Homo sapiens: one gene and its partners. The protein of the gene in region 3 purifies or fractionates together with the protein of the main gene of each other region. This does not show direct contact. Each region holds a gene or a part of one and is shown on either strand. Other genes may lie near its edges.

Region 1 (7,037 bases), on a different chromosome or scaffold from region 3:
TCTTAAAATATCATTTTTTTCTTTAAAACGTAAGTATGGCTATATTTATTTCTCTTAATTCATGCAAGATAGTAATTACACATCAGCAAATATTATCCTCAATAATGATTTGATTCATAAGCATTTGAAATGTATGTAATTTCACATCAATAGCCTTGCATTTTTTTAATACTGTAAGTTAAAAAGCACCCCCCAACAGCCACTTTATATATTTTCCATAACTCCCTCTACACATCCAAACTTTAAACATAAACTGAATATATAGGTCATGTTTAGAAACTTGAGGTTTTAGAAATCTGCTTCCTCACTATGATTCAGAAAACTCCTTATACTGACAATACAGTCACAGGTTAGGTAAAGGTAGTTGTAGGAGGGGAAAAGGAAAAAGACAGACACAAGTTTGCTCTCCTACTATTTTACTAATCCTGTCTGTTGAAAATGGTGATGTCTTAAGAAGTAAAAATCTAGGTTGAATATGAAGAATGGAGTTTGCCTCACAGTTTGAAACATGCATTTCAAATAATTTCCTATTTGATTTGAGCTCACTGTAGCAAACTGATGCCAAAAGAGAAAAATCATTTCTTCCACACATTCGCTCAGAGTCTGCCTGGTAATGTGTATTAAATTCTTTGTGTTTTAGCTTGAAGGCACCTGTCACCAGACCAGTTTCAGGATTCATGGGTCAGGGCTCAAACCAATTTTTAATAGATTTTCAAACTTTTTCAGACACGCCCAAATAGCAGCTTCAGAAAGTACTTTACGTATGGTAGTCCCCTCTTATCCTCAAGGGATATGTTCCAAGACCCCCAGTCTTGGAACCTGAAACCCTATACAATGTTTATTTCCTATACATACAAGCCTATGATAAAGTTTATAAATTAGGCACAGTAAGAGATTAACAACAACAATAATAAAACAATTATAACATACTATAATAAAAGTTATGTTAATGTGCTCTCTCTCTCTCTCAAAATATCTTAACATTTTTGGACCACGGTTGACTGTAGGTATAACCCAAGAAAGCGAAACCTCACATAAAGGGGGACTACTGCACCTCATCTTCTGTTTCACAACTGTTAGAGAGCTACTCTCAAGTTCCTGTAAGTCCTTTCTTTCAAGTTAGTTCTGTTAGTTCCTTTTGATTTGGCACAACAAATCCAATGACATAAGAACAATTAACTGTTTGCAAATGCACAAACGTCATCTATTACTGGGAGATTCTTCAGAGTTGGCTCTACTTTCCCAAGGGAAACATAGTCTCCTGCCTGTAGTTTTACAAGGTCCTTTTTATGATCGATCATCTGTAAACAACCATCAAACTCTTCAGCATCTCTAGGACATAATCACTTCTGTCCATTTCCATCTTCAAATAAATCAGCTTTTGTTTCTGCTTCATTTCTGTAGCATCCCATTGTCACATTTTAGCCACCGATAAGAATTCTACCTCTGGGATGTGGTTTTTCAGTATTAAAGTATCCACCTTCCTCCCAGTTCTTTAATTTAATTTCACAGCAAACTAATGGGACTCTCACTTCTGCCAGTCTTGTAATCCACACATCTGTAATTGTTCCAGCCCCTGTAGGTTCAGTGAGTCTGTATTCATGAACTTGCTGCGTGTTGCAGAAAGTGGAGCACTTTCATACAATAAAAGCTGAATATTTCCACCTAGCTAGCTTCACAGTTTCCAGAAAACAAAGCTGTCACACAATCCAGTACTATGCTCTTTTGAAATGTGTTCCATTTTATAATTATAAGCCAGAATAAACAGATTGTGTTGAAGACTACTGATTTCATACACTTAATTCATGACATTTTGGTAGATCTGATCCATGATTTCCAGAACAGCTGCCATCAGTGTTGGTCTCAACCCAGAAGTACACCCTTTGCTTCTGGTTTTTATTTTTTTATTTTTTATTTTTTTGAGATGGTGTCTCACTATGTTTCCCAGGCTGGACTCAAACTCCTGGGCTCAAGCAATCCTCCTACCTTAGCCTCCTGAGTAGCTGGTACTACAGCTGCATGCCACAGTGGGCAGCCCATTTTTTACTTTTAAAGACTGATCCACTGAAGTCTGGGGTGAAGAGGAGCCAAGCAGGCATCCATGAGAAAAACAAAGAAGCTCAAAGCTTAATTCTAGAACATGGGCCACAGGTAAATATCCAATGTAGTCATCTTCCTCCTCCAGTCTGGGAATCCTTTCTGCCATCCCAGTAATACCAGTAATGATGTTTCTATGCGAGATGATGACTCCCTTTGGAAGTCCTGTGTGTCTACTCATGAACATGATTACTGCAATAACCGAGGGCACTGGTCACTTTGGGATCTGTTTTCCACACTCACCTTCACTTTCTACTGCAGCCATGATGTCCATGATAACAACCTTGGGAAATTGGGACAGGTCAGTGGCTTCCCATTGACAGTGATGATGTGTCACAGGTGTGGGACCAAATAAACTATGTCTTTCAACTTTGTTTCCAATAATTCTTTACTAGCAATGAGATTAGTTACTTTTGTTTCATTAATCCATGGGCCCTGGACCTCCTAAAGTAGCATATAATTTTATGAACTAAATGTTATGCATGAAACATACCTATCCAGCAATCATCCACTTGGACGTGGTCTCACAGAACATGGCAATGTTGGTCTTTGGTTTCTGCCCCAACATCTGTAAGCTATTTCCAACATTAAAGGCTCAAACGATGACATCTTCATAGGAGAGCAAATTATGATGTCCAAGAAGAACCTTTTAAAATATGTTTACATTTGGTTGTACTTAATCTTCATTTAAGATTTCACATGTTCCCAAGAGTCTTTTGCTCTTCCTTTTTTTTACAGACGTAAAAAACTTTATCTATTGTATCACATCCAGAGTATAATATTGAAGCCCAGCCACTCAAACTGCTAACAGATTTGTATAGACTCAGGTTTTGAATTTGTAGGCTTTGCTTTAACTTAGTTTGGTTTTTCTTGTCTTGACTCAGACAAAAATTAAAATGGAATATATGTTAAAATAGCATAAAGTGATATCTATAAATTGTATGAAATATAAAATAATGAGCTTGATGGTCCCTTTTTGCTTCATGGTAGATAGTTCTGAAGATACATGGTTATTCATAAGTGCTCAAAAAGTAGAATTAACATATTTCAGCAAAAATCTGTTGACAATGGCAGGAAGTACCTTTATAATATGCATCTTTGTTTCAATATATTTGCTGATTTATTATAAAGGATCCAACTCAAGAATAGCCAAATGGAAGAGACACAGAGGGCAAGAAATGTGGGGAGGAGGGGGAGTGGAGCTTGGCACTTCATGTTCTCTCTAGGCAAACCATACTCCCCCATCTCGATGTGTGCACTAACACAGAAGCTCCAGATTAGGTTTTACAAGAATGATTTATGATATGGGAAAAGCTTACTAGATACTGTGAGTGAGTAAAAGGTAGCAAGCAACCTACATGAAATGATCCCAATAAGGGAATTTTCTCTGAATTACATGATTATAAGTACTTTTTATTTCTTCTTTATATCATTCAGGATTTTAAAAATTCTCTGTAAGCCAACATGGAATATTCTTTCTTAAAAAAAAAATGTTGTTAGAGACAAGGTCCTGCTAAGTTGCTAGCCCTGAACTCCTGGGCTCAAGCAATCCTCCTGCCTCAGCTTTCGAAGTAGCTGGGACTACAGGTGCATGCCACCATGCCAGGCTAGGATACTCTTTTGATCAACAAAGCAAATTTGTACCTGATTGGATCCTACCATGTACTCAGGATCTTATCTCAGTGATCGTGGCACACCACTGGTCTCAGGACACCCACACCATGGTCCAGCCTCCCTAAGCAGGCACTGCTCAGCCTGCCCTTTCACCATACACTCATACAAGGAGGAAACTGAGCCCTGTGGGCACCCTTCAGATCCACAAGCTCAAAGATTCTGAACCTCCGGTGGGGCTGTGCTCACATAGTCAGGGCAAGGTTCCTGGGAGCCAGGTTTTTGCATCATTCCCAGGAACACTCCCTAGCTCAGTCTTGGGGGCCAGCAGGCAGCAATGACAGGGACGCTGCCCTAGGAAGGCTGGAGTGACATACCATGATCTTGGCGATGCAGTCTTCGGTGGTCTCTGCTGATACACACTCTATTTTCCCTACACTGTTAACACTCCACTCATCACACTTGAGCCTCTCGTGGTGGCTCAGCGCACACCACTTCACAGGCTTGCATTCATCTGTTGGGGCTTCTGGGCCTATGGCATAAAAAAAGAACAAAGATCAGAAGCGGCCCTAGCTGTTGCCTGGTGTTTGTCAGCACTACTCACTGTCTTCATGCAAATGCTGGGATTTGCCAGCAATAAACAAACAGACCCCATTCAAGGAATTAATCACCTTAGAAAGCAAAGTCAATGCACAATCTCTTGGTTGACTTCTCATTTAAATTTAGTTTTTTATGTCTTCCGAGAAGCCAACTTTCCTCTCCAGCCTCTGGGCACTATATGACCTCTGGCTGTTTTTTTCCTTCTTGTTTTTCAGATAGCACTTAACTACTGGAGGTGTTCTTATTTATATGTTCATTGTTTATTGTCAGGTTTTCTGCAGGAGAACAGAAGCTCCAACACAGAAAGGGCCCTGCCTGTCTTGTTCACCAGGGCATCCTCAGGGTTAGGGCAATGCTAGCACATGGTCAGCATAATAAATGTCTGATGAATAAATGTACATCTGCTCATCTTTCAGACTGAGCTCAAGAGTCACTTCCTCAAGGAAGCTTTGCCTTAACGCCAAGTCCAGGGCCTATTTTTCTTTGTTTTGCAGTCTCATAGGGCCATGGTATTTTGTTGTCATATTTTTCCCCTTTTAAACATATCTCTTACTTTGTAATTCATCATCCAATAGCATGACTATTCATTAAACATTTATCTTCTCCCCAGTTTGAAATTTCCAGGACAACAGAATCAAATATATATTTGTCATGCCATCCTATGTCCAGCACCTAGCAGAGCATATGGCTAGATGTTCAATAAATGTCTGCTGAATAAATGAATGGTCAAGCAAAACCACAGTGACTCAGTGAAATCCAGGACTGGGATCAACCTCTCTTAGAGCACCTCTTCATTATGGTACATGTTGACTGGCTGGAGATGTGCAATATATAGCAATTTTGTTCTATTTCACTTACTCTGTGATAAGCTAATTGCCTTCACAGAGTAGGTAAGGCAGTCCTGATTGATGCAAAGGAAATACTGGAACCAACCCACGTCATTTTAAATGTGGATTTCCTGTAAAGCCCATGGTGACATCAAGGCCATCTCATAATGACTAACGCCATTCAGCATCAGTCTAACACTGGGCTCACAGACAGGTCAGAAAAAGGAGCATCAGGAGAGGCGTGCAGGTCCCTGAAAAGACTCAATCTCTGGCCCCTGTGCTCACCAGGTTTCCCAAGTGCTTGTGGTCACCTGGTTCTTCCCAGGTACTCACATGTGCCTTCCCGTAGATTCCGGATGGCAGTGACATACTCATAGCCCAGGTACATCTTGGCATCCATCCTGGGGGGGACTTTTAAAAACCCGTGGGCAGAGTCCTTAAACAGCAGGTCCTTCCCATGAGGAGAGCTGAATAGTTGGAATTCTTTTGATTTGTCTTTGCCAAAATGTTCCTGTTCATAGAAAAACAGAATAGTGGATGGCAACACAGAAGAAAGGAGGCTGAGAAATGGGACTGAAGAGAAAAGAAATCTCTGCAGGAAACAACATGAAAAAGTTCAAGATGCCAGGAGAGAGGGCAGTCGGACCTGCTCCTGCTCACCCAGCACTTCCTCTGCCTGTAGCCCTCGTGGGTCCGCGATTTGCCTGAACCTGCTTCTGTGCCTGTCTCCCGGAACGGGTTGAGACATCGGTGAGAACAAGAAACGTGGCTAATCCAGAGGCTGCCCTGTGTGGTTACCAGTCAAACTCTCAGTGGACAGATGGGACGGCTCGGCAAGAGGAAGCTGGCTGAGCCCAAATCACACAGCTCTTGGGAAGTAAAGCCGCTGTGCAGGCAGCCCCCTCACAGCCGGGCTGAGGGGCATGGGGAGAGAGACCATTTCCTTCTGGGAGGGTCATGGAAAGCCTCCTTGGGGAGGGGTTTAGCTTTGGGCCTTGAAGTTTAGGTAGAAAGGAATGCAACAGAGCAATACAGAGCCTCTTCAGGTGTCACCAGCCAGAAAGGCAAGGGCGGCAGACGGTAGCACCACAGCAGGCTCCCTGCTGCTCTGTGGGGAGTCCCAGCTTTTAGAGAACTTAGTGACATGTGGCATGGCTCCCACTGTATCCTGAACACACAGACTTCCAGAGTGACAAGATGGCCAGGAGGAAAACCCCCAAATCCAAGCAGGGAGCACTAAGCTGGAGGGGAGGATGGCAGGTGGGGATACCTGGGCCTGGTTGAGAAGCTCCCAGATCAAGTCCTCCTTGCCGCCCATACTTCGGGCCACGACGGTATGAGAAGGGACCTGGGCCAAGTGGCAGTCCTTGTATTCATCTACCGGCTTCCGGGTGTTGTCCAGGCAAAGCAGCTCATACTGGTCCCTGTCAGCCTTGTTTGCCAAGTTCTCTGGGGAGGGAAAGCCCAGGTGAGCTTAACACAGGAGAGCCATGGGCTGTGGTGCCCATCCTTGAAATTCAATTGATCATAGAAAGTATGAGCTGAGAGGTCTGGAGTGAGCACTGAAGGCCAGAGAACATGCGGGAGAATGACTCGCTCAAGAGCCCACAGCCAGGTAAAGGCTTCTGATGCCCATGTAGCAGTGATTGCTCCTCATTCCACCATGAGCCTGATCTTAGCAGCACCAACCCCCAGTCTTTGGTTATGGCAACACTACCCCAGAGGCAGAGGCACCGTGTGGAGAGATTGAATGATGGAAAGAGGCCCAGGAATCCAGATGGGGACCCCGTAGGTACCTAACTCTGCACAGGTGGAAACCCAGGCAATGATAAAGGAGAAATACAGTATGCTCATTTCCAATTACTGAGCATGAAAAAGGGAACACAGAAAAAGAACACCCAC
Region 2 (7,000 bases), on a different chromosome or scaffold from region 3:
CCTTTCTCGTCGATGGTCAGCACAGCCTTATGCACGGCCTGGAGGGGAGAGAAGCAGAGACACGTTGTAAGGCTGATCCCAGGCCTCGAGCAAGGCTCACGTGGACACCTCCCAGGAAGCGCTCACTCCCCCTGGACGGCCCTGGCCCTGCACATCCTCTCCCTCCCTGTCACATAGGCCTTGCTCCTCCTCAAGGCTTTGGCTGATGGGGCTGGCTCCCCTCTGTCCATCTTCCTGACAAGCGCCTCTCCCCCTGCTCAGGTGCACCCACAACTCAGAACAGGGAAGAGCATCGTCACTCCACGTCTGCCTCCAGGGCTCTCTCCTTTCTAGTACACGGCTTGAAGCTCCTTGAGGACACGGACCCTGGCAGTGACCTTCACAGTGCCCAGACCCCAAGATAATGCAGCCATTCATGGAACTGCAGTTGTTCATTGGTCGCCTTTAGTTTTCCAAAATAAGTGTCATCTTTAGCTGAAATCATTCATTAATTCAGACACCAAATCTCACAGATCGAAGGAGTCAGAAATTCCTTTGAAACAACTTAGCCCAAACCTTTCTGTGTCAGTATGGATAAATCAAGGCCCAATGTCTAGAAGGTCTTGGGCAAAGTTGAAATTCAGGGTCAGTGACACAACCTCAAGGGAGGCCCCGAAAGTGCCAGCTGCACAGCAGTCCCCTGCCTGGCTTTGCTGTTTGACCACGTCCCGTGTCAGTGAATCACGGGCATCTTCAGGAGCTCAGCCTGGGTCTTCATTTGTTTCCCTCGGCCCCTTCCTCAGCCTCAGGACAGAGCTGCAGCCCCCACACATTCTTCCCTACAGATACCAGGGTGCAACAAGGTCGTCAGGGTGATCTCACCTTGGAGAGCTTCAGGGGTGCCTCCTCTGTGACCCCGGAGAGGTCAGCCCCATTGCTGAAGACCTTAGTGATGCCCAGTTGACCCAGGACGCTCTTCAGATCATAGGTTCCAGTAATGGACAGTTTGGGTAAATGTAAGCTGGCAGACCTGTCGTGCAGAAAAGAAATTCAAGGCATGGCACAGCATTCCTCTTGTTCTTCTGGGACCCACCACAGTGCAAGTGTTTTCTTTTCTGATTATTTCTGCCACTTACTCCTGTGTCCTCCACCCACACTAAGATGGGAACTCGGCTTTGGTTTGTTCTACTTTTAGCTCTTCTACATTGAGTCAAAGAATGTTAACATCGAATGAATCACAAAAGCTTGAAATGCCACCTCCTCTGATATTCTAGGTGTCCTGGAAGCCTGTCTCATCTTGCCCTGTAGTGTTGGGTCACCTGGCCCCCAGCCTGTAACATCCCCAGGGCCCTACACCCAGAGAAACACGGGGCTGGTGGCAGTGCCCAGTGACAACCGTTTAGTGGATAAGAGAAGAGTGACCACACCAGGCTGAGTGCTCCTCTCTGGTTTTCCATGGGGAGACAATGCCACCCTGAGCAGGGTCTGGTGTGAGCGGGCAGCTTGGCTCTGGGCTCTCTGATCCGTTACCCTCTCAGCCTCTTTGTTCTTTCTCAACCCCTGGAGCAGAGACCTCAGGAGGTGCTGGCATGGAACAGAGAAATTCCAGCCTCGATTCCTATTATGAACCCGACACCTTTTGTATTTTCATCTTGGTTTTACAGTGTACAAAACGAACTAGATCAGCAGGGCATGGGCATAATCACGAATGCACACACATACACTAATGTGTGGCTCATGTTTAAGTATCACTTACTACAGGACACCCAATCTAACAGCACCGATAAAGTGACAGAGAAACGCAAGCCTTCTGCGAACATGGCCTGGCTGTTCCAATTCCGAACCTTGCTTTTCTGGGCCTTGCCACACAGGCTCTTCCCCCGTCCCCCCAGGGACATTCTACCCTTGAACTCCACACTCCACTGCTGCCTTTGCCAGGAAGCCCATCTGTTCCTTTTTGGTTCTGCCAGAACGTGTGGTGGTGCTGCTGTCCCTGCCCTGGGCACTGGATATTGGGAAGGGACAGTGTCCACACTGGAGTGGGAAGTCCCCAGGGACGAGACCTTTACCTCCTCACCCCTGGGTACTGTCCTCCTCATGGAGCATGGATGGCGCTGCCTGAACTCAGTGGTGGCCTCATTCTGGAAGCCAAGTTTATACAGAGTAGCAGTGACCCAGGGATGTGGGGTTCACCCTCCTCAGCCCTCTGGCCAGTCCTGATGGGCCTCAGTCCCAACATGGCTAAGAGGTGTGGGCAGCTTCTTGGTCACCCTCAGGTTGGGGAATCACCTTCTGTCTTCATTTTCCAGGAACTTGGTGATGATATCGTGGGTGAGTTCATTTTCCAGGTGCTGTAGTTTCCCCTCATCAGGCAGGAAGAAGATGGCGGTGGCATTGCCCAGGTATTTCATCAGCAGCACCCAGCTGGACAGCTTCTTACAGTGCTGGATGTTAAACATGCCTAAACGCTTCATCATAGGCACCTTCACGGTGGTCACCTGGTCCACGTGGAAGTCCTCTTCCTCGGTGTCCTTGACTTCAAAGGGTCTCTCCCATTTGCCTGGAGAGAGGGGAAGGTGGGCATCACCAGGGGTGAGTGAAGGTTTGGAAGAGTGTAGCAGAATAAAGAAACCATGAGTCCCCTCCCTGAGAAGCCCTGAGCCCCCTTGACGACACACATCCCTCGAGGCTCAGCTTCATCATCTGTAAAAGGTGCTGAAACTGACCATCCAAGCTGCCGAAAAAGATTGTGTGGGGATAATTCAAAACTAGAGGAAGATGCAGAATTTCTACATCGTGGCGATGTCAGGCTAAGAGATGCCATCGTGGCTGTGCATTTTTATTGGAATCATATGTTTATTTGAGGGTGTCTTGGATATTACAAATAAAATGTTGGAGCATCAGGCATATTTGGTACCTTCTGTCTAAGGCTCCCTGCCCCTTGTTAATTGGCAGCTCAGTTATTCATCCAGGGCAAACATTCTGCTTACTATTCCTGAGAGCTTTCCTCATCCTCTAGATTGGCAGGGGAAATGCAGATGCCTGAGCAGCCTCCCCTCTGCCATACCAACAGAGCTTCACCATCGAGGCATGCAGAGTGGACAGGGGCCTCAGGGACCCCTGATCCCAGCTTTCTCATTGGACAGAAGGAGGAGACTGGGGCTGGAGAGGGACCTGGGCCCCCACTAAGGCCACAGCAGAGCCAGGACTTTAGCTGTGCTGACTGCAGCCTGGCTGCTCTCCACTGCCCTCCTTTGCCTCAAGAGCAAGGGAGCCTCAGAGTGGAGGAAGCAGCCCCTGGCCTTGCCTCCCACCTCCCCTCCCCTATGCTGTTTTCCTGGGACAGTGGGAGCTGGCTTAGAATGCCCTGGGGCCCCCAGGACCCTGGCATTTTAACCCCTCAGGGGCAGGAAGGCAGCCTGAGATACAGAAGAGTCCATCACCTGCTGTATGCCACACACCATCCCCACAGTCTTTGTCATTTGTTTAATCCTAAAAAAACCTGACAGCAAGAATGGTATTTTGTCCATGCTAAGATGAGAAATTAGCACCTCAAAGAGGTAGAATGCATTGTTTTTGTCAAAAGCTAATTGTGTTAGAGGCAGGATTTGAACCCAGGTCTTTCAGATTGCAAAACTGATACTGATTCTGGGACACTAGAGTCGTGTAAAGTATGTTCCATGAAACTATCCCTTTATGCAGTGTATTACAATTTGTTCTATAGTTCTAAGCATTATATATTCTACATATACAGTATACACAAGGACATTAAAGGCTCTGAAAAGTTCTGCAGAGCTGTCAGTAGTTTTGACAGTTTAATCTATTATTTCCTCAAATTACTCAATGATGGAAAACATTTTAGTGTTTGTGTGTAGAAAACTGAAGAATCCACGCTGAAAAGCATTGCTATGGCCCATAATGCATTGCCAAGGAGAGTTCAAGAACTGATGGTTTGAGAATATTTTTGCTTGTTTCTATGGGAACAGCTCAGGCTGGTTGAGCAACCTTACCTTTAAAGAAGATGTAATTCACCAGAGCAAAAACTGTGTCTCTGTCAAGCTCCTTGACCAAATCCACAATTTTCCCTTGAGTACCCTTCTCCACGTAATCGTTGATCTGTTTCTTGGCCTCTTCGGTGTCCCCGAAGTTGACAGTGAAGGCTTCTGAGTGGTACAACTTTTTAACATCCTCCAAAAACTTATCCACTAGCTTCAGGCCCTCGCTGAGGAACAGGCCATTGCCGGTGGTCAGCTGGAGCTGGCTGTCTGGCTGGTTGAGGGTACGGAGGAGTTCCTGGAAGCCTTCATGGATCTGAGCCTCCGGAATCTCCGTGAGGTTGAAATTCAGGCCCTCCAGGATTTCATCGTGAGTGTCAGCCTTGGTCCCCAGGGAGAGCATTGCAAAGGCTGTAGCGATGCTCACTGGGGAGAAGAAGATATTGGTGCTGTTGGACTGGTGTGCCAGCTGGCGGTATAGGCTGAAGGCGAACTCAGCCAGGTTGGGGGTGATCTTGTTGAAGGTTGGGTGATCCTGATCATGGTGGGATGTATCTGTCTTCTGGGCAGCATCTCCCTGGGGATCCTCAGCCAGGGAGACAGGGACCAGGCAGCACAGGCCTGCCAGCAGGAGGATGCCCCACGAGACAGAAGACGGCATTGTCCTGCAAGACAGAGATGGGGGGGCCAGGCCCCGAGTCAAGGCACATGATGACTCCCAGTGATCAGGGATTGACACCACGTGGAAGTGCCTAGGGATTATTAAACCAGCCTGTGCCAAGTACTTGCCGACATCAGTAACACTGAAAGAATCAGAAGAATAGCAAAATGTACGTAGTGCTTACCATATGCCAAGCACTGTTCTCCGTGCTCACATGTGTTAATTCATTGCTTTCTTGTAACAATCCCGTGAGGTGCTAATGCTAATATCCTTCTTTTACAGATGAAGAAACCAAAGCCAGAGAGATTAGGTCAGCTATTCAATGTCACTGAGGAAGTAGCAGAACCAGAATCCTACATCTAGGTCCTGCACCCAGGCTCTGGACAGCAACACTTACATCTGCAATGACCCTAAGATGCAAATGGTACAGCCATTGTTTTACAAAAGAAGAAAATGAGGCACAAGAAGAGGAATGGGCCTGCCCACGATTATCCAGGAATCGGGCCAGATCAGAATCAAGAATCATGTCAAGCTGGAAGCCCTTGGAGGGCTTCTATCTAATCCCACTATTTAGTGGCCAGGGAAACTGCTGCACAGAAGGGAAATGCATCTTGCACAATGGCAACAGCTAGAGAGCATGGAGGGGCTGTGATTAAACCTCCTGGGAGCTGTTCCCACCCAACACTCACAAGGATCCTCAGCCCTTAGGGTTTTTTTCCCAAGAGACGGGGCTGTCCCCACAATGCTCTGTGGTCCCAGACACAAGAATAGGCTGATGCTCCTGCAGTCAGCTTACCTGCCGTCTGGGTCACTAATGGTGTCCCAGTTCTGGGCTCTTGCTGTCAGGGGCTTTAGAGACGCTCATCTCTCCTTGAAAGCAGGGGTTTGTGCTGCTTTAAAGTAGATGGAGGAGGTGGGAAGTGAAAAGACACCTCTTTTAACTTCAGATAGACCTGGGATCTAATCTGACTCTGTCACTTTCCAGGTGTATGAGCCAGGACAAGTCATTCATCTCCCTGGTCCTCATTTTGCCTCATACATAAAGTGATGTTTATGTATGAGAATTTAGTGAAATAAGTCTCAACACCAAACCTTACATCAAAAGGATCTGAGAGGGCAACTCTTTTGAGGGAGGGGTTGGCAGGTGTTGCAAATTCAAAGGCTTCAGGTGATAGGCCAGTGAGGAATACATGTTTCATACCCGGGGCTGAGACAATAGGGAGTGGTGGGGCCTGTGGCTGAACCAGCGAGAGCAGGCTCTGCCGAGCAATGGTCAAAGTCAACGTCATCCACAGCAACACAGAACCTGCCCTGCCCCACAGTGATCCTTCTACTCCAGATATGCCCAGGCTTCGGACCACCAGCCTGCAGCCCCCTAGGTAGAACCTGCCGTCTTCACAGATGGGAAAACTGAGGTCCTAGCTGAGGAGAATATGCCCGGCAGCCACATTGTTAACTACTAGTCACAAAACCAAAACCATCATCTTAACAAAATACAAAGAAAAAGGTGTCCTTGAATTTGGGAAATGAAAAACTGGAGAAAAAAAGCTGGAAATAACAAATATTGAGATTCTTCAACCCCCTTGGACTTTTAAAAGTTTCCTTCCAATAAAGCAACAAATGAAGTGCAAAGCTGGTTTCTCTCCACCACCTTTCTCCTGGCCCTCGTGCCTCTAAGTAATCCAAATGGAACAGACCACACATTACATAATACATGTTTGTATTTTTCTTCAGCTAGCTAGTGTTGTTAGAACTAAAGACGGTGCTAAAATTAGTGCTGTATATTTCCATCTCCCTTTAATTTCTCTTTCACTTCCCAACTGAACTTTGTGCAGTCCTTCATGGCTTATGGAAATTCCCCCATCATTACAGGGCTCAGTGGTCAGGAGGGAGTTGGGCCTCTGCAGGGTGGGGACACTAAATATGCTGAGTGGCCTCAGGGCCAGAGGTTGTGGCTTCTAGCCCTGGCAGGGCCATCACTATCCACTTGGCCTTTAGCAAGAATCCTCTGGTCCTGGGGCCTCACTCTCCCCAGTTGTGCAAAGTGGGGCTGGGAGAAGACTTCACTGGGGCCCTCTGTACACTAACATAGGTTTTTGGGTTTTTTTTGAGACAGAGTCTCGCTTTATCTGCCAGGGTGGAGTGCAGTGGCGTGATCTCGGCTCACTGAAACCTCCACCTCCCGGGTTCAAGAAATTCTTCTGTCTCAGCTTCCCAAATAGCTGGGATTACAGGCGTGTGCCACCACGCCTGGCTAATTTTTGTATTTTTAGTAGAGCTGAGGTTTCACCGTGTTGGCCAGGCAGGTCTTGAACTCCTGACCTCTTGATCCGCCTGCCTTGGCCTCCCAAAGTGCTGGGGTTAC
Region 3 (7,037 bases):
GCAAGATCAGAAGAGGAAACACACAGGGCCAATAGCAGAAAACACAAAAAAGGCCCAACTTCCTCAGCCTACCGGAGAAAAGGACATCAAATCAATCTTTACTTTTCAACTATAAGATTACCAAAAAGTTTAGGAAGAAAATACACTGATAGCAAGAGACCGTTACATATACTGTTAGAAGGATGACAGACTGGTACAGCCTTTAGAGCAAGTGGTTTATTAATATTGCTCAAAAATTATATACTCAGATCCTTTGGCCCAGCTATTTAACTTCTAGGAATTTATTCTACATATGCACAAAGAGAAATGAACAAGGATATTCACTAGGGAGTATTTTTTTTTTTTTGTATTTTTGTTTTTGAGATGGGGTCTCACTCTGTCACCCAGGCTGGAGTGCAGTGGTGCGATCTCCACTCACTGTAACCTCTGCCTCTCATGCTCAAATGATCCTCCCACCTCAGCCTCCCGAGTAGCTGGGACTATAGGCATGCACCCCTACGCTGGGCTAATTTTTGTATTTTTAGTAGAGACAGGGTTTTGCCTTGTAGCCCAGGCTGGGGGAGCATTTTGTAAAGGCAAAAGATGGAAACAATTCTAAGTATAAATCAGTAGAGGGGTTGGTTAAAATTATTACGGTGCATCCAGTATATTGTCATCACTAATAGATCTGTGAACTAACTGACACAGAAAGATGGCCCAAGATACTCTGTAAAAAGAAGGAAAGCTTGGGCCAGGGGCAGTGGCTCACGCCTGTAATCTCGGCACTTTGGGAGGACGAGGCAGGCAGATCATGAGGTCAGGAGTTCAAGACTAGCCTGGCCAACATAGTGAAACCCCGTCTCTACTAAAAATACAAAAATTAGCTGGGCATGGTGGCACATGCTGAGGCAGGAGAATCGCTTGAACCAGGGAGGTGGAGATTGCAGTAAGCCAAGATCGCGCTATTGCACTCCAGCTCTGGCAACAGAGACTTCGTCTCAAAAAAAAAAAAAAAAAGAAGTAAAGCTTGTAGAACAATATGCACTTATATACTCCTTTATAGGGTAGGGGAGAAGGGCGACAGGGTCTCACTCTATTGCCCAGTCTGAAGAGCAGTGGCACAATCACGGCTCACTGCAACTTCAATCTCCCTGAGCTCAGGTATCTTCTCATCTCAGTCTCCCGAGTAGCTGGACCACAGGTGTGTGCCACCACACCTGGGTAATTTTTATATTTTTAGTAGGGATGGGGTTTTGCTATGTTGCCCAGGCTAGTATCTAACTCCTGGGCTCAAGTAATTGACTCACCTTGGCCTCCCTCCCAAGTGTTAGGACTACAGGGGTTAGCCACCACACCCAGCCTATTTTTTAAAAAATAAACATACAACAGCATAACTGTGTGTGCATGAGTGGTTACCAATGGAGAATAAAAGAAATGCAACAAAGTCTTATTTTTTACATTAAATACCTTTTTTTAAAAAGAGTCAGGGCCTCACTCTGCCACTCAGGCAGCAGTGCAGTGGTGTGATCACTGCTCACTGCAGCCTTGACCTCCTGGGCTCCCACCTCAGCCTCCCAAGTAGCTGAGAGTATAGGCACGCATCACTACATCTGGCTAATTTTTTTTTGCTTTTTTTTAAAAAAAAAATTATTTATTTTTTGAGGTGGAGTCTCACTCTGTCACCCAGGCTGGAGTGCGGTGGCACGATTTTGGCTCACCACAACCTGCGCCTCCCGGGTTCAAGTGATTCTCCTGCCTCAGCCTCCCGAGTAGCTGGGATTATAGGCGCCCACCACCACGCCCAAATAGTTTTTGTATTTTTAGTAGAGATGAGGTTTCACCGTGTTGGCCAGGCTGGTCATGATTTGCATTTTTTTTTTTTTAGTAGAGATGAGGTCTTGCTGTAGTGCCCAGGCTGATCTCGAAATCCTGGGCTCAAGAGATTCTCCTGCCTCAGCCTCCCAAAGTGTTGGGGTTACAGATGTGAGCTGCCACACATAGCCTAAACACTTTCTCATTAAATTTATTAATGCAAGTTTATATTATCTTAATAATTAGCCACAAAGAGAAATGAGACAAAAAGAAATGTTAGGACGGGTGCAGTGGCTCAAGCCTGTAATCTCAGCACTTTGGGAAGCTGAGGTGGGCGGATCACAAGGTCAGGAGTTCAAGACCAGCCTGGCCAACATGGTGAAACCCTGTCTCTACTAAAGATACAAAAAATTAGCTGGGCATGGTGGTGGGCGCCTGTAATCTCAGCTACTCGGGAGACTGAGGCAGGAGAATCATTCAAACCTGGGAGACGGAGGTTGCAGTGAGCCGAGATCGTGCCACTGTACTCCAGCCTGGAGACAGAGCAAGACTCTGTCTCAAAAAAAAAAAAAAGAAAAGAAATGTTAGGACAGGTGCGGTGGCTCACACCTGTAATCTCAGCACTTTGGGAGGCTGAGGCAGGTGGATCACCTGAGGTCAGGAGTTCAAGACCAGCCTGACCATCTTGGTGAAACCCTGTCTCTACTAAAAATACAAAAATTAGCAGGGCGTGGTGGCGTGCACTTGTAGTCCCACCTACTCAGGAGGCTGAGACAGGAGAATTGTTTGAACCTAGGAGGTGGAGGTTGCAGTGAGCTGAGATGATGCCACTGCACTCCAGCCTGGGTGACAGAGCGAGACGGTCTCAAAAGAAAGAAAGAAATGTTAGTGCCCCTAGCTGCACTATTCACAGTAACCAAAAGGTGGAAACAATCAAGTCTGTCAACAGATTAATAGAAAAATCAAAATGTGGTCTATTCACACAATGGAATATTACTTGGCCTTTTATGTTCTGATACATTCTTATTACAACATGGATGAACCTTTAAAACATGGCTACTTGGAAGAAGCCAGACACAAAGAACCATGTAGGATTCCATTTGCATAAAATGTCCAAAATAGATAAATCTATAGGCAGAACATAGATTGGTGGTTGCCTGGGCCTGGTAGGGGGAGGAATGGGGAGTGACTGCTAATGGGTACAGGATATTTAGGGGAGGCAATGACAATATTATAGAATTAGTGGTGATGGTTGCACAAAGTTGTGAATATACTAAAAATCACTGAATCGTACACTAAAATGGTGCATTTTATGCTACGTGAATTATATCTCAATAAAGCTATTAAAGATAGAGATGTTGGAGGCCAGGCACAGTGGCTCACACCTGCAATCCCAGGACTTTGGGAGGCTGAGGTGGGAGGATTGCTTGAGCCCAGCAATTCAAGACCAGCCTGGGTAACATAGCAAGACCTCATCTCTATAAAAAATATGAATATTAGCCAGGTGTGGTGACGTGTGCCTGTAGTCCCACCTACTTGGGAGGCTGAAGCAGGAGGATCACTTGAGGCCAGGAGGTTAAGCCTGCAGTGAGCCATGATCACACCACTGCATTCCAGCCTGGGCAACAGAACAAGACCCTGTCTCTAAAAAAAATCAAAGAGGGGGATGTTGGGCACATAACCCTGTCCCATGGCAAGGCCAGTCCATCCTCAGACATGGCTGTGGCTCCCCACTGAGGAATCAGAAATGCAAACTGCTAAAAGAAAGAAGCCAGTCTGAGAAGGCTACCTACTGTATGATTCGTATAAGACAATCTGGAAAAGGCAAAACTATAGAGACAATAAAAAGATCGGCCAGGCACAATGGCTCACGCCTGTAATCCCAGCACTTTGGAAGGCTGAGGTGGGTGGATCACGAGGTCAGGAGATCGAGACCATCCTGGCCAACGTGGTGAAACCCTGTCTCTACTAAAAATACAAAAATTAGCTGGGCATGGTGGCATGCACCTGTAAGTCCCAGCTACTCAGGAGGCTGGGGCAGGAGAATCACTTGAACCCAGGAGGTACAGGTTGCAGTGAGCCGAGATCACGCCACTGCACTCCAGCCTGGTGACGGAGCGAGACTCTGTCTCAAAAAAAAAAAAAAAAAAAAAAATCAGTGGTTGCCTGCCAGGGCTCAGGGGAGGAAAAGAGGGAAGAATAGGTGGAGGACGGGGGTTTCAGGGCACAAATATATTTATATGATACTAGAATGATGGTATCATACACATTATGATACATTTGTCTAGGCCCATAGTAAGTACAACACAAAAAATGACCCCGAGGCTGGGTGCCTGACAGCAGATTGCCCGAGCTCAGGAGTTCGAGACCAGCCTGGGCAACAGAGTGAAACCCTGTCTCTACTAAAACACAAAAAATTAGCCAGGCGTGGTGGTGCGCACCTGTAGTCCCAGCTACTCAGGAGGCTGAGGCACAAGAATTGCTTGAACCCGGGAGGCATGAGTCGAGATCGTGCCACTGCACTGCAGCCTGGGTGACAGAACAAAACTCTGTCTCCAAAAAAAATAAAAATTAAAAAAAAAAACCCGAATATACACTACAGACCTAAGTGAATAATAAGGTACCAGTATTGGCTCATCAATACTAACAGATGAACCACACTCATGCAGGATGTGAATAAAGGGGAAACTGGTGGAACAGGGAGGTGCGAAGGAATATATGGGCACCCTCTGTACGTTCAGCTCTATTTTTCTATAAACCTACAACTGCTCAAAAGTAAAATCCAGGCCAGGTGTGGTGGTTCATGTCTGTAATCCCAGCACTTTGAGAGGCCAAAGCAGGAGGACTCCTTGAGCCCAGGAATTCAAGGCTGAGGTGAGGTATGATTGCACCACTACACTCCAGCCTGGGCAACAAAGAGAGACCTTGTCTCTAAAATATAAATAGGTAAATAAATAAATAAATAAAATCAAACAGCTCAAAACATGAAGTGAAATAAAGTCCCTATACTAGCCATACCATGGCTCTCAGACACGAAGGTTCACAGAGCTGTGTATCTTCTGGTGGATACACTTCTACTGATGACCAAGGTCTTGGAAACACACACTCCCTTTTGCAGACACTCCTGGTATTTGTTACATATATGCAATTTACAAAGTGCTTCCCAGGATTAATTTCTACATCACAGCCACCCTGTGAATGAGGCAGGGCACGGCTCGGGATGGGGAAATGAAGGCTGAGGGAGGGAACATAGCTTCCCAAAGGCACACAGCTGCTGTGTGGTAGAGCTGAGACCTGAACCCAGTCCCAACTGATCTGAGCCCGATGCCCTCTCTGCTTCTCATGCTGGCTCTAGACACCCAGACCCTGCGGCACTGCCTGGCTCACCTGCGGCCCCTGCTCGGTCTTGCTATCAAAGGGGTTCCCGACCACCCGAGACTTGGCCCGGGCAACGCTCCGCTCCACAAACTCATCATAGATGTCCTCCTGCACGAAGGTCCGGGAGCCGGCACAGCAGCACTGGCCCTGGTTGAAGAACAGGGCGAAGTGGGCCTGTTCCACGGCCCAATCCACTGCGGGAAGTGGGCAGGAGACAGAAAGGTGACAGTGAGGAGGAGGACCCTGGCCCTGGTGGCCGCCTGCCCAATGGAGCCTGTTCCCACCACTGTAAGGGTTGATGCCTGCTGGGTGCCAGAGACAGATACAGGGAGATGAGGGGTGCTCTCGGAGCCCACTGCCAACCAGGACAAAGGGCGTGATGGCGGCAAGTGGATGAGTCAGATAGCAGGGGCGTGGCCTAGCCTGATGATGCAGAGAGCAGCCAGGGAGAGGCTGGGGACAGGCCAAGGCCAGGCCATGCAGGCCCTGCGCTGGCGTCTTATCCTGAGGCCCGAGGGACAGCAACCAACGCCATTGGGCACTGGGGGGGCGACAGGATCGGCTGGAGCCACAACACAGGTGGCCAGGGCTACCTTCAAGGCCAGGCCTTCTCCAGCTGGAAACTCACTATCGGCATCTGACATGATGATGTTGGGGCTCTTCCCCCCCAGCTCCAAGGTCACTCTCTTGAGGTTGCTGCTCCCAGCAGCAACCTGGATTACGCGGCCAATCTGTGGGGACAGAAAGACAGGAACAAGCTCTCAGTGCCGGGAGAAAAGAGTCCAGCACTCTATAGACACAGAACAGAGTCCCCCACAGCTTGAGTGAGCAACTGGACCACGAGAGACCTAGAGAATTTCACCAAATAGACGTTCACTTTTTTTTTCTTTTGGACAGGGTCTCGCTCTGTCACCTAGGCTGGAGTGCAGTGGCGTGATCTCAGCTCACTGCAGCCTTGACCTCTCAGGCTCTGGCAACCCTCCTGCCTCGGCCTTCCAAGTAGCTGGGGCCACACGCACACACCACCACACAAGGCTAATTTTTAACCACAATGGCAGTCCTGGTCAAGGAGTCTGACCTGGCCAAGATGCTTTGATTTGGGGCAAGCGGTCAGCTCTGGGCTATGTGGAGTCTGGCCAGGCCTGGCCTCCTTAGTCCACATGGGACACTGGCCCCTCCCAAGGGCAGCTAGTGTGGCAACCAGACCACGAAGGGCTCAACCCTGCCCCACCCCTCCTGGTACCTACAGGGTCGTCCTGGAGGAAAAGGCCTCCGCTTGACACCCGGGAGCTCACCTTGAGCATGTCGTCCACTGAGGACAGGGGGAGCTTGGGCCAAGGAGGCTGCAAGCTTGAGGCCAGGGTCACCTTACCTCAGTGGAGCCTGTGAATGCCACTTTGTCCACATCCTCATGGGAGGCAATGGCGGCCCCAGCCGTGGGGCCAAATCCAGGCACAATGTTGACCACACCAGGGGGAAAGCCAGCCTGTGAGCAAACAGCCAGGGGACATTGGGAGTCACCCTCCTATTCTGAAGGGCTCAACCAGGGGAAGACACATCCTTTCTCAGAGAGGGTGGGACAGTCTGCCAAGGACACATGTGGTCAGAAGCTAATTGTATGGGGCACTACATGGGAATTCTAAATGGGACGGAGAAGGAGTCTGTTCGCTGGGGTTCCCTGTGTCTTTGCCCCTCCCCTGACAGCATTCACTTAGAACAACAGTGGGTTTTTGTTTGTTTTTTGAGACCGAGTCTCTCTCTGGCACCCAGGCTGGAGTGCAGTGGTGTGATCACAGCTCACTGCAGCCTCAAACTCCTGGGCTCAAGTGATCCTCCTGCCTTAACCTCCCAAGTAGTTGGGACTACAG
Region 4 (6,849 bases), on a different chromosome or scaffold from region 3:
GCCACCACTGCAAGAAACATCAGTGCACCCACCAGGTCTGGGTCAGCGTGAAGACAGCCTCCAGCATCAGGGGCTTTTCTTTCTACTTTCTTTTGAGTGGCAGCTGCTTTGGCTGGACGAGCCCGATAGCCACCTCCACTGATGGGCGGTGGGGCAGGCCTCAGGCTGGGAGCCTCTTCTCTCTTCTTGTCAAGGGGTCGATGACCACGGGCACTGAAGAAACCCTACAAGGAATGAGGCAGAAATATAATACAGAGTGTTATAGAAGATTTGGAATGTAACTATTCCAACACCCTCATTTTATAATTTAGGTTATCACAAGCTTGATAATTTGCTTAAGATCCATCAACTGGCTGGTTGGTGATAGTGAATCTGTAGGTTGCTTACTGTTCAGTAACAGTAGAAAGACCAACTGCACAAAAAAGCTATGATGCAGTGTAGTTTTTAAAGAGAGGCCTTAGGATAAAGCTGTATCAGATTATGAATAGTAATGACCTCATATTCCTAAAACATACATTGGAACTTACGAAATTGTAAAGAATCTATACTGTCAAGAAGAATGAATATTCTCAAGCCACTTGGATTGTTAGATTCCTATGATTATTGTTAATCATTTCCCTACTTTCATTTTTGTGAATTGGTGATTAGACTCCTATATAAACATATTTAAGAGACATTAAAGACTTATTAAAGGTTGATTCTACTTGGAATTTATTTGTAATAAGACAATCTTTGACCCTCATAATGTACTCTGGAGCTCGGCTACTTGTAGGTCTTGACCGTAGGGTTGACTTACAGCTATGAGACCTTGGGCAAGTTGCTTTATCTGTGCCCCAGTTTTCTCATCTGTAAAATAAGTGTAATGATAGTTTGAATCTGCCTTACAAGATTATTGTAAGGATTAAATAACTTATTGCATATGGTACCCTCAGAACAGTACTTGGCAATAATAAGTGCTCATTACTATTTTTACTGGAATCACACATAACAAGTACTACAGTTTAAGTGTCCTCTCCACTTCGAATTTCACTTTTAGTCTTATCTTCTATCAACAAAATTATTTGTTAAACCATTATCTTGAAATTTCTTACATGATTTCTTTATCAAACATTATGATTTTCTTATATTTAAAATAATTCTCAAGGCTTGTGCATTGTAATTAAAATTACTTGCTAACTTAAAATATTATATTAAAGGATAATGAAGCAGAAAATACGCATTGCAATAGGAAAGTTTTGATTTGGATTAACTACATTCTCATTTTTTTTTTTGTCAGTAGCTATACATCCTTTGGAGCTTAATTACAAATTAACAAACGACATGATTTGGAACAACTGAGCAACAACTGAGCTCTCTTGCAATTTTGTGAGTCTAGAAGTCATCAGATGAACTCTATTTGGAATTGCATTGTCATTTATTCATTAGATTATAATATTATTTAACATTTAGTAGGATGGTGCTAAGATTAAAACCCAGCCAGGCTGGTTCCAGATTTTCCTGTTTAACCAGTTGACTATATACATTCTTAATATGTAAAGATTCGGAGGATATATACATATTTCACATTGAAGTCATGGTCCTAGTCAGAGCTTACCCTCTCTAAAACAAATTTTAAGAAATGTGATTCATCTGCTTATTACAAATACAATTATAACAGAGAAAACTATTTTCTTTTTATTTCAGAGTGCCACTAGAGAGGTAGCATGGATGGTCTGGCTTTACTAGAGAAAAGGAAATTTTAAAAAATATTTAAAGAAAGTATATACTTAAAGAAAAACACTTAAAGAAATTATGAAGGCCACTTGTTGAATAATCAAAATCCATTTTAAAGCCTAAACTATTAAACTATCTCTGTGAGGTTTAGTTGATAAGCAGAAATGTGAAAGTGCTTTGCAGAGTACTTTACAAAAATTTCGTCTTACACATTCTTTACATTTTTCTTACCTAATATGATTAACCAGACTTAACCAGATTAACCATATGTTTTTACACACACAACCAGATTAACTATATGTTCTTACATGTAGAGTCTGATAAGTACAACACTCAAGTTCCCTTGAAACTCAATAATGATCCGAAATGAATCACTTCATTTAAATATTATTGTGTATTCTTATTTCTAGTTTAATGATACTATGCTATATGTAAGAAATTTGGCCATGATACGTTTGATGATAAAATTTAAATTTCTTAAATATCCATTGTCCTAAATGCATTTCTGTATTTTTAGTAACTGCAAATTAACAGCAATAAGTCAGCAAAAATAATAGTTGAGGACAAACTGTTCTACAAATAAATAAATTAGACTGAACCGTGTTTCATAACTATTAATAATAACAATACACACTAACTCTAATTTGAACTTTTCATCTGAAAAAAGCAATATTTCATTTTCTATCATTACACTTGATGTATTTTGCTTTTAGGCTTAGTTATAATTTTTATAAATAGTAATCTCAGTAACAATATATATTACCTTCCTTCACCAAAGAACAATCTACCTACCACCAGTTTCTTTTATCTTAAAATTCTGCTCTTTTATTATTTTATAGTTTGTGAGATTTTCAGATCTTGTCCTCTTAATTGTAATCCTGTATTGCTAGAAGTAAATGAAAATCACAGTACTCAGAATAGCAAGTGAGAAAAACACATCTTACATTAGCTAAGCCATCCTCATCTTAAGAAAACAAAGGTGATAAACTAGAAAACAAGAAATTACTTTGTTTTTATATAAGAAATACTATGAAACATTCTTTAAATACAATAAGTCAGAGGTTAACAATTCCATTTCATAACTATAAGCAATGCTAATTTCATTAAAATAAGCACATAATATGATTATGTTACATCTTATATTAATAATACTACTAATAATATAATAATGCTTTAAAAAATTCACCTCCTCATTGTCGTTGACACCTTGGGACTTAACTAGAAAAACACACAATAGTAGCAATAATAGATGTTTCATGGTTTTAAGTTTGTGGAAGCTCCAAGAAACCATCCTTTTCATGTAGACTTAACTGAGAGATCTTCAATCCTATATATATCTGAGTCCTCTGCTAGGAATGACTTCAGAAATGGTTACCTTTCCTTAGTTAATATTTAATTTTTGGTTCACTTGTTGGCTGAACCATTTTATCATTTAAGCAACATCTTCCCAGCAAAGCTTATTTACTTGTCATACAACTATTATTCTTTGTTGGTCTAGTTTAGAAACATTAAATTTCTTCAATTCATTTAATTGGACAAAATGATGGGAAGTTAGGGCACTCCTCAAAGAGAGATGTGTATCTTGTTTCTGGTAAATTAATGTGGAAACTACACAAGCTCCGAAAGAATATGTGAGAAAACAAATCTAAGCTTAGTAAATTTGACCTACTCACAAGGCAACCACTAAAATCGTGACTCATTAATGATATACCATAAATGCTTATGTTTTCTGACAATGACATAATTCTATTTCAAAAGGGGCCATTAAAATCAATAGTAATGTTATATCATAATGTGTTTATCTTTTGTTTTAGACATTAATCAAAATAACAAAATAACAAATTCATACCCTATTCTATGAAAAATACACATCAGAAAGACCCTTTTTTTGTGCTGAATAGCTTTAATATTTTGTCCTTAATTCACATAAGGTAAAATGTTCAACAAATTCTAAACATTATTAAGATAACTAATAAATTATAGATTTCTGAATCAAAATTATGATGATGATTAAATACATGTTTAACATTCTATTTTATTGTTATATAGTTTATATCATATGATTTATAAAAACAATGTTATTTTAACACTGGTGAAGTCTTCATACATCTATTTCAATTAGTATGCTCACAGACTAAATGAGGCCCATTTTCCTTCATTTCCCACAAGCCACAAAATTTATCTCTCTTGTCTGTTCACTTGTGTGTTGCAATCAGGATTAATAACTCCTACAAGAATCAATAGGAACACCAGTCAGTAATCCAAATCCCAGTAAGTGCATTGATTCAAAGCATTTTTCTGTTTTTTGTATGGAAAGTGAAACATTCTCATTAAATTTATAAATTATTTTATTAAAAAGATGGCAGGTTATCAGGGTTTGGATCAGCGTATTGAAACAATGCTTTGAAACAGAGTCTTGAGAATGGTGTGGGACCCACGACATTTCTTTCTTCTCCAGGTAGCAGAGATTGCATTCCCAAATTCTTTTAACTCAGATTCCTAGAAACAAATTATTCTCTTGGTAGCATAGGTTGTCCTCCCAAATTCTTTTAACTTAGCTTAATAGAGACAAAGTACTCAGTTTAAATTAAGAAAAAATATTCACTTGAGTCTTTCCAAATTTGTGTTCCCTTTATTAGCAATGAGTAAATATTATATTTTAAGATTTTTTTCTTTAGCTTTAATGGTTTTTAAAGGGATACATGATCTGACAGAAAAAGCAAATATCTATGTGGCTATTAATTAAAATATATACAGGAATATTTTCCATGAAAATATAACTGATAACAAAGTTTATTTTAATAATCTAGACAGGATTTTATTTTAGTGACGTACAGATTCTTACAGATTTAAAAAGAATTATCTGTTAAGAAAACTCTAACCTTTTTTTTTTCTTTTGAGGTAACGTATTACTACATTTTCAATGACTGATGTTTGATCAACTAACAATAGAATCATCATTTAACTTTCAGAAGTCTGTAAATTTGTAAAGTTTTTTCTAGTATATAATAGACTCTTGTTCAACACTAAAGTGAAGGTTCCTTTACTTTCCTACTTTGTTCTACTCTGATTGGCATTCTTCCCATGGTCAGAAGGAGGATGGATTCAATCCAGCATGCATGCACCATAACAGCACAGACTTAACATTCATCTTACAAATAGTTCTTGAGAGTCTCCTCAGTGACGGGTAGTGTGATAGGGGCTGGGAATGCATTGGTGAGCAAGACAGACATAGTAGGCGTTCAATACATAATTACGGGATGAATGAGTGAACTGGCTGTCATTGGTACATGCCTCAGATGCCAAATTATGGTAGTCATTTATCGTATTTAATTCTTGAAACCACTATGTTCTACAGATGGTGAAACAGGTTCAGAGAGGTTAAGTAAACTACCCCAGAGTGTATAGGTAGTAGGTGCTGGTATGAGGACTTGACCCCTGACTGTCTGACTCTACAGTCCACACTCTGTGCCCATTACATTATATTTCCCAACAGGATACAAACATTATAAAAATTTACCTCTACCTTCTTTTTGTGTGTTTGTTCTTTTGGAGTATTTTGGCCAGCCTGTCATCTTGGGACCATAATGTATCAGGCTGACACACTCACTCATAGCTTTTACTTTCACTTATCTTTTTACCCTCATATGTGGGTATAGTATTCATGTCTGTGTGAAGCATGTGCAATGCAGTGATAATGAGTTTTTGTAATTCTAGTTCTTGTTAGATATGTCTTTTTTCTGTAGAGTTATGTACAGTTACACTGGGACTCTAAATTGCCTAATATTACAAAGAATATTATCATGTTTTCAGGGAAGAAATATATTTGCAGAGACACCGCTTATTAAGATGCTTAAATTTTTTTAGAATGTTGATGCCATTGGTGGAGGGGAAAGGGAGTACTATTTGTTCAGTTATTTTGAGGTCATCAGTGCAGTGTTCTTCATATTAGCTGATGTCATTGCATAAGTCAAGGGTAGTAAATCAGTGACAGAGAAAACAGAGATAATCTGTCCTGCCCAGCAGCTCTCTGGCTTGAAGGGCAAAGACTTGCCGATACCCATTGTCAATACACTTGTTGATACTTTTACAACTCATGTCAGGCCCAGTCTCCATAGCACAAGGCAATTTGTGCTTAACAACTATTTACAGAGCATCTACTTCATAGCAGGTAGTTTGCTGGGGGCCGGGGAGACCTTGGCGAAGCCTTAAGTCTAAAAGGAAAGACAGAAAATGAAAACTACTTACAATAATTAGTGTTGAGCCTAAGATTGGGGGAGGTGAGGCTTTGGGACTGGTAACTTAAGGATCTAACTTTCTTCAGGGGGAAACGAACTTCAAAGGAAAAGGGCTTTTAGACTTGAAACTTGGTTTGAATGACTGTACAGTTTATGTCATGCACCTGGCACATAGCCAGTATTTAATAAATATCGGTTGAGCAAATTCATGAATATATAAATGAACGAATGACTAAAAGGAATACTGATTCTCGTTGTCTAAATATGCATAGGTTTTGAGGTACTGTAATAAGTTGTTAGTCTCTGTATATATTTTCCTTGTGTTACCTTGATTAACACTGACGAGTTGGAGGCCAGGCTGGACCAGAGCTCTTGGGGCAAGCCTGAGAGCAGTGCAGTGGTGACACCTGCAATTTGTTGGTCATCTTTAGTGGGAAAGCATATGGTGGGGAAGAAATAGGAGATGACGCCATCTCTTGTGGAATGTCTCCCTCTACTGGCTTAGATGTCAGTTTCCATTTCTTATGGGAGCTGACATAGAGCATGGTAATAAGGGATAATAGGACATTTTCTCCTACAACAGGATGGAGATCACAAGAGCTAAGAAAAGATAGAGATGCTCTTCTGCTTTTGTCACATTGAGACCCACAACCATTAAGGGTGTAATGAACACCTCTGGGAGTGCTGCTCCCTTCTCCTGGAATGACCCCTAAAATGGAGGTATGAAGCTCCAGTGGTCCTGTCAGTACTACAACACCCTGACCCTCTAACCACAGGTGACCAAGCTAGGGGTAGACAGACCCTTTACGCAAGCTAAATCTACCAGATTGTCTCTCCAAATTTGATATTTGCTGGAAGAAGAAGGAGGAGGAGGAGGAGAAGAAGAAGGGGAAGGGGA

Evidence for each region.
Region 1: the proteins of ALDH2 (region 3) and TF purify together in Homo sapiens (affinity purification with mass spectrometry; 3 studies listed by BioGRID and IntAct, with this or other methods). This does not show direct contact.
Region 2: the proteins of ALDH2 (region 3) and SERPINA1 purify together in Homo sapiens (affinity purification with mass spectrometry; 3 studies listed by BioGRID and IntAct, with this or other methods). This does not show direct contact.
Region 4: the proteins of ALDH2 (region 3) and FGB purify together in Homo sapiens (affinity purification with mass spectrometry; 3 studies listed by BioGRID and IntAct, with this or other methods). This does not show direct contact.

The regions. Positions count from the first base shown.
Region 1 is NC_000003.12:133,756,378-133,763,414, reverse strand, and holds part of TF (serotransferrin isoform 1 precursor), read right to left. Parts: intron 6,585-7,037; coding exon 6,406-6,584; intron 5,647-6,405; coding exon 5,469-5,646; intron 4,241-5,468; coding exon 4,086-4,240; intron 1-4,085. UniProt on the Homo sapiens protein: Transferrins are iron binding transport proteins which can bind two Fe(3+) ions in association with the binding of an anion, usually bicarbonate.
Region 2 is NC_000014.9:94,378,603-94,385,602, forward strand, and holds part of SERPINA1 (alpha-1-antitrypsin precursor), read right to left. Parts: intron 4,778-7,000; exon of another isoform or gene 4,640-4,777; 5' UTR 4,636-4,639; coding exon 3,990-4,635; intron 2,540-3,989; coding exon 2,269-2,539; intron 1,010-2,268; coding exon 862-1,009; intron 39-861; coding exon 1-38.
Region 3 is NC_000012.12:111,790,924-111,797,960, reverse strand, and holds part of ALDH2 (aldehyde dehydrogenase, mitochondrial isoform 1 precursor), read right to left. Parts: intron 6,656-7,037; coding exon 6,542-6,655; intron 5,901-6,541; coding exon 5,798-5,900; intron 5,364-5,797; coding exon 5,179-5,363; intron 1-5,178. UniProt on the Homo sapiens protein: Required for clearance of cellular formaldehyde, a cytotoxic and carcinogenic metabolite that induces DNA damage.
Region 4 is NC_000004.12:154,559,183-154,566,031, reverse strand, and holds the start of FGB (fibrinogen beta chain isoform 1 preproprotein), read right to left. Parts: upstream 3,022-6,849; 5' UTR 3,014-3,021; coding exon 2,900-3,013; intron 225-2,899; coding exon 33-224; intron 1-32. UniProt on the Homo sapiens protein: Cleaved by the protease thrombin to yield monomers which, together with fibrinogen alpha (FGA) and fibrinogen gamma (FGG), polymerize to form an insoluble fibrin matrix. Fibrin has a major function in hemostasis as one of the primary components of blood clots.